Linked DNA regions of Homo sapiens: region 1 is linked to region 2. A link means that fine-mapping ties the variant in region 2 to the expression of a gene that starts in the linked region. Tissue or cell type: whole blood. Region 2 holds a variant in brackets; the other region holds the start of a gene. All regions are shown on one strand. Distances are from middle to middle.

Region 1 (5,229 bases), 66 kb after region 2:
CTTGTAGGTATACCTAGTTTACCACACTAATCTTCTTAGTATAAAAAAATAAGCGTTACTAAGAAACATCTACTTTCAGCAAATGGACACGACCAGAATGATACATAGAAAGATGTAAGAAATGTCACTCTACCACTCATTTTAATTTTTACAGTAACAGGATGATTGCTATCTCAATCTGTCATTTTACCTTTTTTTTTTTTTTCCGGAAGTTAAAGTGTATCCATACAAGTTCAACTTAACATTGTTAAGTGCAAAGTTAACAGTGTACACTTTGGAGATACGTTTTGAAGTAGAAAATGATTTTTTGTTTTCTAATAAGTTTTCCCAAGTAATATTAAAGAAGGTTAAATATGTCATTTACTTCGAGAAAATAGAAAACCACGAGAAAGTTTGGGAAAATGCTATATTTCAGAGCTTAATATGCTGAAACAGTAAATAAGACAGGAATTGGGTACCTTTTAAAGTAAGTGCATTTACAAAAAATACAAATTGAATAGGAATGCTTTTGGCAAACAAAAATCTGACCTGAAACATTCAATGGCCACAGCATTCAAGAACGCTATATGAGATCCTTTCCCTTTAACCATCCACATACTGATATTTGCAGTCATCCTCAGTAGAATATGTATCTTTTTAGTATATGTTTTAAAATACTTATTGGAAAGATTTAACTAAAACTATTATTATACTTCAACTTCAAATATTTTAGCCACATAAGTTCATTTTACACACAGAAGAAATGATACCTTCATTACTTAATCCACGTATTCTTTCTTTTAGAAAATCGCATTGGCACACGGGAAGAAAAAAAATTTACAAAAAATCCCCCAAAGAACCAAAGCAGGACAAAAGCTTTACTTCTGCAAAGGTTGCTGCCAACACAGGAAGTGTTTAAAAATACTATCCGAATGGACAACAATTGAAAGGCTGCACCAGCCTTTCCAAAGTACTGCTACAGAGAGGGCCTAAACTCCGCATTTAGACACACAGATCATTTTTCACCCATTCAACACATCCTCCTATGCCGAAACTGCTGATCAGTAGGAACATCAATTTTGAGTAGCAAAACAAATGACATTCCACGGCACTAGCCTTAGGATTGGCAGTGTTCAGGGCGCGAGGATCGGGGCAGAGTTGACTCCACTTACCTTCATTTTTGTTGGTGATCTGTGGGGTTCCAGCTCAGCGAGCTATCTTCGCAGTCGCTAGAACTATGGGGAGGGGGAAAGACAGGCACAGACATAATCAGTCAACTGCGGGGAGCGACCAAGGGAAAGAAAGTAAACAAACGCCAGCGGGGAGGGGCAGAATCCTCACCAGCCAAGGGACAAGACCCCTTACGAGGGCAGCCAGGACGCAGGAGCTGAGGGGGCAGCGAGAACCCCACGAGCGCCAAAGGGCAGCCCGTTCCGCCCCGGAGCTCGCCAGCGGCCCACCGCGCCCCCGCCTCGCTGGCCACTTTGACCCGGAATGCTCAACTCGGAGCTCCAGGACAGATAGCTCCGGAAAAGGCCAGAGCTCCCTTCGGGCTTCCCCAGGTCCCCCGCGGAGACGACCGCCGAGCCTCCGCTCCGCGGTCCCCCGGATACCCCGACTTCGGCCCGCGCCCCGCCTCCGCCGCTCGGCCCCCTCGGCCCGCCCCGGGCCCGCGGTGGCGGCAGCGGAGTGTCACGGCGCCATTGCTCTCCTTCCTTCGCTCTGCACCATGTCAGAAAGGAGAAGCGCTCCTTCACCCAAAGGGGCAGGGGCCGCGGCCTTCAGCCGGGAGCCGCCAGAGCCCCGGGGGACCCGCGTGGGGGAGGGGGCGGGGGGCGGAGGGGAGGAGGAGGGGAGGTGGCCCGGACAGGGTGTGGGAGGGGAGGGGAGCCGCACCGCAGCAGCCGCTGCCTCCTCCCAGCGCCCGCCTCAACTTTTTGTACAGCCCAGAGAGGTATCAGCTCGTAGCCCCTCGAGTCCTGCCACGGACTCCGCAGAGGTGGACGCGCCGCGGAGTTGGGGGACGGCTCCCCCAAGCAGCCCGCTCTTCACCGCGCGGAAGCAAACTTAGCGGCGCGGCCAGCCCCACAGCCATTTTCCCGGGAACCCGAGGAAGCGGACGAGGAGGCGGCTGCAACTGCGGCGGCGGTTCCTGCAGTTGCTGCCGCTGGTCAATGGCTGGCCCCTTCCCTTGCGCTCGCCGTGCCACTTGCCTAGCATCCCTCTCCCCACCTCCAAAGCTTCCAACTGCACCGGGACCTCGGGCAGCAGCAGCTGCTGCTACTGCCACTTCGTCCATTCAGTATCCCCGGATTCCCCTCTCCCCACCTACCAACTGCGGGTGAAGTGCGCGCTGTCAGCTCCAGAGTCCTCCTCCCCTCTGACCTCCGTGGGCCCCCGTCCGGGCAGCACCACTCCCAGCCGCGGCTGCAGTTCCTGCGCCGGGTTCCCCACTCGCCCCGATTTACTGCCACAATCCACCAAATAACAAGCTGTTGAGCAGACTCGCTTCTACACGAACTCCTATTGGCTGCTCATGACGCCGAAGAGCTTCGGATAGGACCTCGCTACCTGCCGTCCTCATTGGATGTAGCTGTGAAACTTCATGGATTGGTGAGAAAAACAGCAGGTAGGACATCTTCCACTTATGATTGGCTTTTTCCGAAAACCAACTTTATTGGAGAGTTGGTTATTGAGTAAGCAAGTCCTGAGAAATGATTGGTAGAGACGACTCCGGATGTGCTTGACTGGGCACTGATTGGTGAATTGAGGGGTCAGGAAGAGCAGTTCGACACGAGGATTGGCGGCGGAGTGTCCCATGGAAACGGAACCCAGAATTGCAGCCAGGGGCTTGCACGGGGGCGGGGCAGGGTCTGTCCAAGGCGCTTGCGCTAAACCAGCTTGTCGGCGCCATTTTGTCTCGGCAGCGGTGGCCGTAGCTCCATCGCATTTTATGTTTCTGGCGAGAAGGGAACGGAGTTTTCATCAGGTAGATTGGTTTTTGTGCGGCCGTCCTCCACCGTTTCCTCCAGGACAGCACCTAGTCGTGGCCGGAGGAGTCTCAGAGCTGTCAGAAAGGTCAGTTGGAGGCTATGGTTGTCCGATTGACTGGGGGGATGGCGCAGCCCTAGCGGCACCGGCACCGGAAGTGAAGGGGCCGCAGGCAGCCATGGTAAACTTCTCCCTGCGGCGGGGTGGGGAGAAGGGGCGGGATGAATGGGGGCGAGGCTTCCTCTCCCGCCGAGATAAAGAGGTGGAGGAGAGGCAAACGTCTTTCTTGGAGGTTCTCTTTCGGGTTTTCGAGAATGTGAGAGATTTTCTGGGTTCTGTCCCACTGCAATCTTTCCTGTCTTTGGAAGTGCATTTCGGGGACTTGCCATGTTCTCCACCTGATTGGCACCAGCTGTGGGAGCCTTCTTAGTTAAGACAGGGAAGAAGTGGTTCTTAGAAACATCCTGCATGGGTAGAGGTTTCCGCGTGCTCCTCACGGGATAAAGCTATGAGGAAACTGGAGAAAGCGCTGGCTTTCTGGATGCTGAGGAATTTACTTGCCAGCGCAGACGCTTCTTCTGTGACCTTAGACAAGGGTCTGTCACTCTGCACGAGGCTTATGCTACTTTTTGAAAGCAAACAGTGGTTTTGCAGGGACTGAAAACATCTTAGACAAAAGGACGTCCCCGATAAGATAGACGTTGATCTTTTTCTGTTAACATCTTATATTCTGTTAAACGAAACACACATTTTTAAATAGCGGAATTGGAGTATAAAATTGACTAGTTTTATAGAATGGAGTAATTTTTAAAATGTGACATATCGTCAGTAATCCACGTGGACTAAATTTTCTCAGTAAGAAAACAGCCGAGCAGAATCAGTTTTTTATTCGTAACAGTAATTTTGCTCAAAAGTATTCATAAAAACGTGAAATGCATGTTGGCATTTCTAGTGAGTGACCTAGTCACACTGGATAGATCCTAATAGTTACCCTCAATACCTCTGTTTTAAACCCTACTGCTATATTGGTGGCGCCCATAACTAGAAAATGATTGTGTGACTTAACAATTACTGGGTTTTTTGGCAGTTGTGCTGAAGAAAACAGAACATCTCAGTGATTACTGAGGTGAGTCATAAAGTCTAAAAATCCTTAGAATTGCGGGGGACTACCTGGAAAAACTTTCTATGGATTAGTAAAGAAATACCAGAATGGGAGGAAGGGTAGTTAAAAGATGTTTTGTTTGGTCAGATTCAAATGAGTCTGTATAATTAGCTTTCTAGTGTAATATTTTAGAATGAAATCCCAAAATTAGGACATCCTTATGGACTTGTTTACCCATTTACGTGGTTCTCATTTCTGGACTTTGATATACCTCATGTTTTTGTTATAAAACATTATGCGTATTTTTGTGATTTCCTCCCCCCCACCCGCCTATTTAAAAAGTTCTTATATAGAAAAGATCTTGTAAATGGGAGTGTTTAGGAGTGAGGCTTTTTTTTTTTTTTTTTTTTTTTTTTTGGAGACAGAGTCTCTCTCTGTCATCGAGGCTGGAGTGCAGTGGCGCAATCTCGTAGGAGTGAAGCAGTTTTTTAAAAGACCTTATAAAACAATATATTACTGAATTTTCTAGGGGGTAAGCATCCATAATTCTACGATCAAAGTTTAAACTGTTATTATTGAATCCAAATAATGCATGGACATTTGGAAATTATTAAAAAGCCCAAAGAAGAATACAAAAATGTCTTCCCTCCTCCAAAAGGTAGTTACGGTTTACACTATAGTTATATATTATACAAAAGGCTTTGTCTTTTTTGTTGGTTTTGTTTTACCAAATATTCTAGTGTTGTTCATTACCGTCTATTCTTTATAGAAAACATTGGGAATATTGGAAATATCTTATCGTAAAGCATCTTTTATGTCTTCATAGTGTTTTGTGGGATAAATATATCATAATTTATGTAACGTGTTTATTTTTCTATAATGGCAGTAATATGTCAGTGAATATCCTTGTACATGTTTTGCAAAATATTGTGTCTAAGAAGGTCGTTGCAAAAGTAATCGTGGTTTTTGCATTATTGGAATTTGCCATTTGATGTTGGACTACGTTGTTAAATAAATGTGGTTATGTTATACATCATTTTAATGGGCATTTCTCGCTTTGTTCTTTTGGTAATGACTTATTACTCTCTGTTTATTTCATGTTTATTTTATTTTATTTTTGAGACAGAGTCACGCTCTGTCGCCAGGCTGAAGTCAGT
Region 2 (5,229 bases):
CTTGGAGAAATGAGATTCTCTCTGTACTGTTCATATTATCTAATTCATCTAAAAGGGGGGAAAGAAGTTAATTTGGATTTTAAAATAATTCTGTGAGAAAAATGATGACAATTCTATCAAACGTCTAACTCATAAATCAACAAAAGCTTTAGTTTATTAAAATCTCCTACAGTAAGCTGAATAAGACTGAAAACAAGGAAGTCGTGAATTAAATTCATGATTAAGAATTATTTTTAGATCCCAAATTTTCTATACTAAACATTTATTACTTAAATGATCAGAAAAACATAAGAAAACATCAACACAAACTAACCCTGACCTATCTATAATTATAGTTATCAGAATAGTTTCCCTGTATTGACATTTTCTTCACTACTACTAGTTACATAATAGAAATAACTACTGGCTATTTCTAATTGTTAGTGCTACAAAGGGCACTTCAATTTCACTGATTTATATAAATCATACATGGCTTCTTAATGGAGACCTTCCTGTAAGTCAATATTTATCAAGTCAGTTTTATGAAAAGACACAGATTTATACTTAAGACAACATGTGGTGATTCTTGCTAAGGCAATATTTGGAATATCTAAATAGTTAATCATTATTCCTTATTTTATTAACATTAATCCAAGTTGATATTTTAAGATCTATTCCACTTTACAGTATTCATCTATCAAGTTTTCTATAAGCTTCTTACTGAGCTGAAAGCTCCATTTATATGTCCTAGGGGATGAATTCGGATGTTTTTCTCTGTGTTTATCTTTCTCTCCATCTTTGATGTGCGGGGATATTCTTGCAGGAGATCGTGCAAGTTTCTGTGGCTTAGATACATTAAGATGCTTTACTGGGGTACATTTACTTGAATTGTCTAGGACAGGAAGATCTTCACTATCACTGCTTTGTCCTATAAATAATAAAAAAGATTGACTCAGATTATAAATAAAATTCTTAAATATCAAAATGCAACAGACCTAACAATTACATTTCTTGGTATCCTACAGAAATAAGTGCACAAATGCACAAAGTTTATAACAATATAAAAACAACAAAAAAACAAAAAAACCTAAATGCTCACCAACGGGGAAATGGTTAAAAATGATAAACTATTGAATACTTTCCTAAAGTTGTTAAAAAGAATGAGCTAGAGTTCCTAAGAATAAAAATGGCAAAATATCTAGTATAATACTGTTAAATGAAAATGCAGTTATAAAACAATATAGTATTGCTCCATTTATGTTTAAAACAAGCCAACAAACTGCTAAAAATACTAACACTATACAAAAGCTAGCATTGAAAGACACCAACCTGTTCCATTCTTTTCATTTTTGGCTGCAGCACTTGTTCGCTTTGGGGTACGCTTTTGCTTTTTTGCCATTAATCCACTATTTCCATCACTTGGCCTCTTCTGACCTGAAATAAGGGGAAAGAGAGAATGTTGAAAAAAAAAAAAAAAAAAAAAAGAGCAAGTATATTATTCAACAGACTACACTGACATTTCTTTCTTTTTAATAAGAAAAGAAGAGAGAAAAGAAAAAGAAAGTACTTTACAGATCAACAGTACCTGAAACTCAACAGTTTTGATTTTTGGTTTCATATAAACACTTACTTTTCCCTAGAAAGTCCTTACCCTTCTCTCTGCTCTCTCTCTCTTGTACAATTATACTACAGGTACCAGAGGCAACATTAGTTTCAAATCCATTTGCCGATTCCCTCTCACAGAGACCTTCTTGAGATTCTTCAGCAATACTATCAACTTCAATCGTTATATCACTCTCACTTTTTACGCTTCGAGACTCATCTTGACTAAGAGTAAGTGGTGAAGCTACTGAAAAGTTATGTTGGACTACAGGAGGTAGGGCAGGTGGAATAGAAACAAGAGAGTTAGACTCAGAGCTTTCAACTGCTACATCCTCAATGCTGGTCTTATCCTTTTCATCCAAATCATCCAAATCTACTTCATGGCAAACCAAGGTTTCAGGCCCGATCAGAGGCATTGCATCCTCATCTTCTTTTAGTGGAATATTTACAGTTTCTTCAGCTGGACTATCAAATCTTTCACTAGTCAGTTGTTGGATGCATTGGTTTGACTCTGCTATCAATGATGGCATTCCTTCATTTTCTCTTTCAAAGTGCTGTTCAAAATTTAAGTTTTTCATTCCCTCAGATCCAATACAATCACTGGTCCTTTCTTGAGATACAGTATTTGTCATTTCCATTCCATTCTCAATTCTTATTTTTTTCTCTGGCGATGATTGTCCTAGTATTTTCCGTTTCAACTTCTTTTCTTTCACACATTGGTCAATTTCATCTTCTGTAGCAGAAGAAAAGTTTTTATTGTCTAATGAAGACAATTCAAGACTATGAGCTTCTATATGAGGTTCACTTCCTGCTTCATTCTGGCCAAATGATGAAATCTTTATAATTTCTAAAGAAAGATCTTTTGTCTTGCTTCGTCTTCCCTTTCCTTTTGGAGATTTTTCGGCTTCTTTCTTAACTTCTTCTGTTTTTTCCATTTTGTTCCCAAAAATCTGTACTATTTGTTCATTCTCTCCAACTTCTAACTTCAGGGTTTCTAAAGGCTGCATTTGAGTCCTATCATTTTCTTTTAATATATGTGCAGAAATCTTTGGATTTTCTTCATCTAGCTTATCATCATTCAAATTTTCATTTTTTTCTAGTTCATCTTTAAGAGAAAGTTCTTCATTTATTAAATTCTTTTCTAAAGCATCTTCTGTTTCACTATCAGATGAACAAGAGTCTGTAAGAGGAAATATTATTATATTATACAGGTTTTTATATTACCAATGTAATTTTACAATAAAAATCTTACCAAAAATAACAATAAAAATCTTTAATCATGTACCTCTGAATACCTCCCTGTAGAAATTTCTGAAATAAAACAAATCATAACATTTGTGCCAAGAATTTGAGGGGGAGGGGAAACTAAGCTCCAAGCAAAAATATATTACGTTGCATATTACTAACTCAAATCTATATGAAAAGCTATTTTGCAACATTCCCCAGTATCATATTTAGGTACAATAGTCCTTAAAAAAGATCAAAAGATTAGTACCTAGACATCCTAGACATGAAGTTAATTTGTTAAGTGGTTTGAGATAGTATCTAGGAAGGACAG[A/G]TGATGGGCATTTTGTACCCTAAGAAAGGAATATGACATTCTACTTAAAATAACTGTGGAAAGAAAAGGTTTTTTCTTTTCTTTTCTTTTTTTTTTGAGACATAGTCTCACTTGGTTGCCCAGGCTAGAGTGCAGTGGCGTGATCTCAGCTCACTGCAAGCTCCGCCTCCTGGATTCAAGCATTTCTCCTGCCTCAGCCTCCTGAGGAGCTGGGATAGGCGCAGGCCACCACGCCCGGCTAATTTTTGTATTTTAGTAGAGATGGGGTTTTGCTATGTTGGCCAGGCTGGTCTCAAACTCCTGACCTCAAGTGATCCGCCCACCTCAGCCTCCCAAAGTGCTGGGATTATAGGCATGAGCCACCGTGCCCAGCAAGAAAAGTTTTTAAAATGGGCAATTGGAATCCTCAAAACTTTAAATATTCTTAACAGACAAGAAAGTACAGGAAACAAAAATTGTTCCCTGTAAGGGAACTTGTAAAATAGTAAAGTAGGGTTCTAAGACTGTATAGGATCTAAAAAATATAAAAATATTGTCCACATGGTGCTCAAATCCTCAAGAAGTTCAAAACTGCAAACATGAATTTTTTAGTGAAAAGGTGTATACAGTTTTATTTTGTGGTTTTATCATAAACAGAATGTAGAATTCATTTTCATGTTTTAAAAAATCCCTTTCAGTGGTAGTTTAATAAGGCTGGTATGTAGTTGTATAGACTGGACACTGCACACAGGTATGCCTTCTAAGAGGGTACCTTTCACTTTGTGGACATCTTAAACATTTGTCAGCAGATGGCAGTAAAGAGGAAGGATGTCCTTTTATAATTTGCACACAAGCACCATATGGACTAATAGCAAACATGTAGTTCAGTATAGCTTTTTTCTTGAAAGAAGAGAAATTTTTATATAAGACAACCATTTAAAATTTCTTTTTTGGTGGCCGGGCACAGTGGCTCACACCTGTAATTCCAGCACTTCAGGACGCTGAGGCGGGTACATCACTTGAGGTCAAGAGTGCGAGACCAGCGTGGCTAACATAGTAAAACCCTATTGCTGCTAAAAATACAAAAATTAGCCAGGTATGGTGGTGCACACCTGTGGTCCCAGCTACTTGGGAGACTGAGGTGGGAAAACTGCTTGAACCCAGGAGGTGGAGGTTGCAGGGAGCTGAGATTGCGCCACTATACTCCAGCCTGGGCAACAGAGTGAGGTGGGGTCTTGCTCTGCTACCCAGGCTGGAGTGCAGTGATGTGATTACACTTGCTGCAGCCTTGACCTCCCAGACTCAAGCAATCCTCCCACCTCAGCCTCCTGAGTAGCTGGGACCACAGGTGCACACCACCATGCCTGGCTAATTTTTAAATTTTTTTGTAAAGATGGGGTCTCACTATGTTGCCCTGGCTGGTCTGGAACTCCTGGGCTCAAGTGATCCTTTTGCCTCAGCCTCCCAAGGTGCTGGGATTACAGGCATGAACCACTGCACTCAGCCTAAAATTTCTTAATTACATTTAAAAGTATACAGAGGTAGAAAAGTGGGGGAAACGAGTACAAGCAGAATAAAATATGTTCACCTATACTCATTATAAAACATGCCTGCACCACAGTAGTCTGTGTTCTCTTAGAACCACATGGTCTCAGCTTTGCTGAAAGATCCCAGATGAACAGCATTGAATTTATAGGATACACTGGTACAGGCTTTGAGGGAAAGTGTAGCACACATTAGGATGCATGGATTGTCAATTCACCTTCTATTAAAATATATTATTTTCAAGATACTTATGAGAAAAAGTATTCCTAAATGAAAACATCACTAAATTTTAGATAAAAATGATACAGCAAAATATTTTCTTCAAATCAAATTTTATAGTTTAAATCATATGAGATTAAAATCCTAGGTGATTTACAGGTTGAACACCCCTAGTCCAAAAACCTGAAATCCAAAATGCTGCAAATTCCACAACTTTTTGGGCACCAACATGACACCACAAGTAAAAAATTCCAGACCTGACCTCATGGGACACATTGCATCCAAACACAGGTGCACAACAGTTTCTTCAGCAACCCCAAGCTAGTGTACGGGTAACCTTTTAATGA

Evidence for each region. PIP is the estimated chance that this variant, and not a neighbour inherited with it, causes the effect.
Region 1: ARID4A starts here. The variant in region 2 is fine-mapped to the expression of ARID4A in whole blood (INTERVAL, PIP 0.94).

What each region holds. Positions count from the first base shown.
Region 1 is chr14:58,295,783-58,301,011 of GRCh38, reverse strand. It overlaps ARID4A (AT-rich interaction domain 4A), which reads right to left and starts at 2,457. Exons shown (of 24, transcript NM_002892.4): 1 at 2,312-2,457; 2 at 1,152-1,214. The coding sequence starts at 1,157. PSMA3-AS1 (PSMA3 antisense RNA 1) reads left to right here and starts at 2,875. Exons shown (of 4, transcript NR_029435.1): 1 at 2,875-3,057. RefSeq lists a silencer at 1,368-1,887 and enhancers at 2,518-2,607, 2,718-2,767, 2,788-3,207, 2,504-3,227.
Region 2 is chr14:58,361,702-58,366,930 of GRCh38, reverse strand. It overlaps ARID4A (AT-rich interaction domain 4A), which reads right to left. Exons shown (of 24, transcript NM_002892.4): 20 at 1,631-2,761; 21 at 1,309-1,413; 22 at 701-907; 23 at 1-48. Among named protein-coding and RNA genes, the nearest start is that of TOMM20L-DT, 31 kb to the left of the region's middle. The variant A/G (reference allele first, on the strand shown) is at 3,140.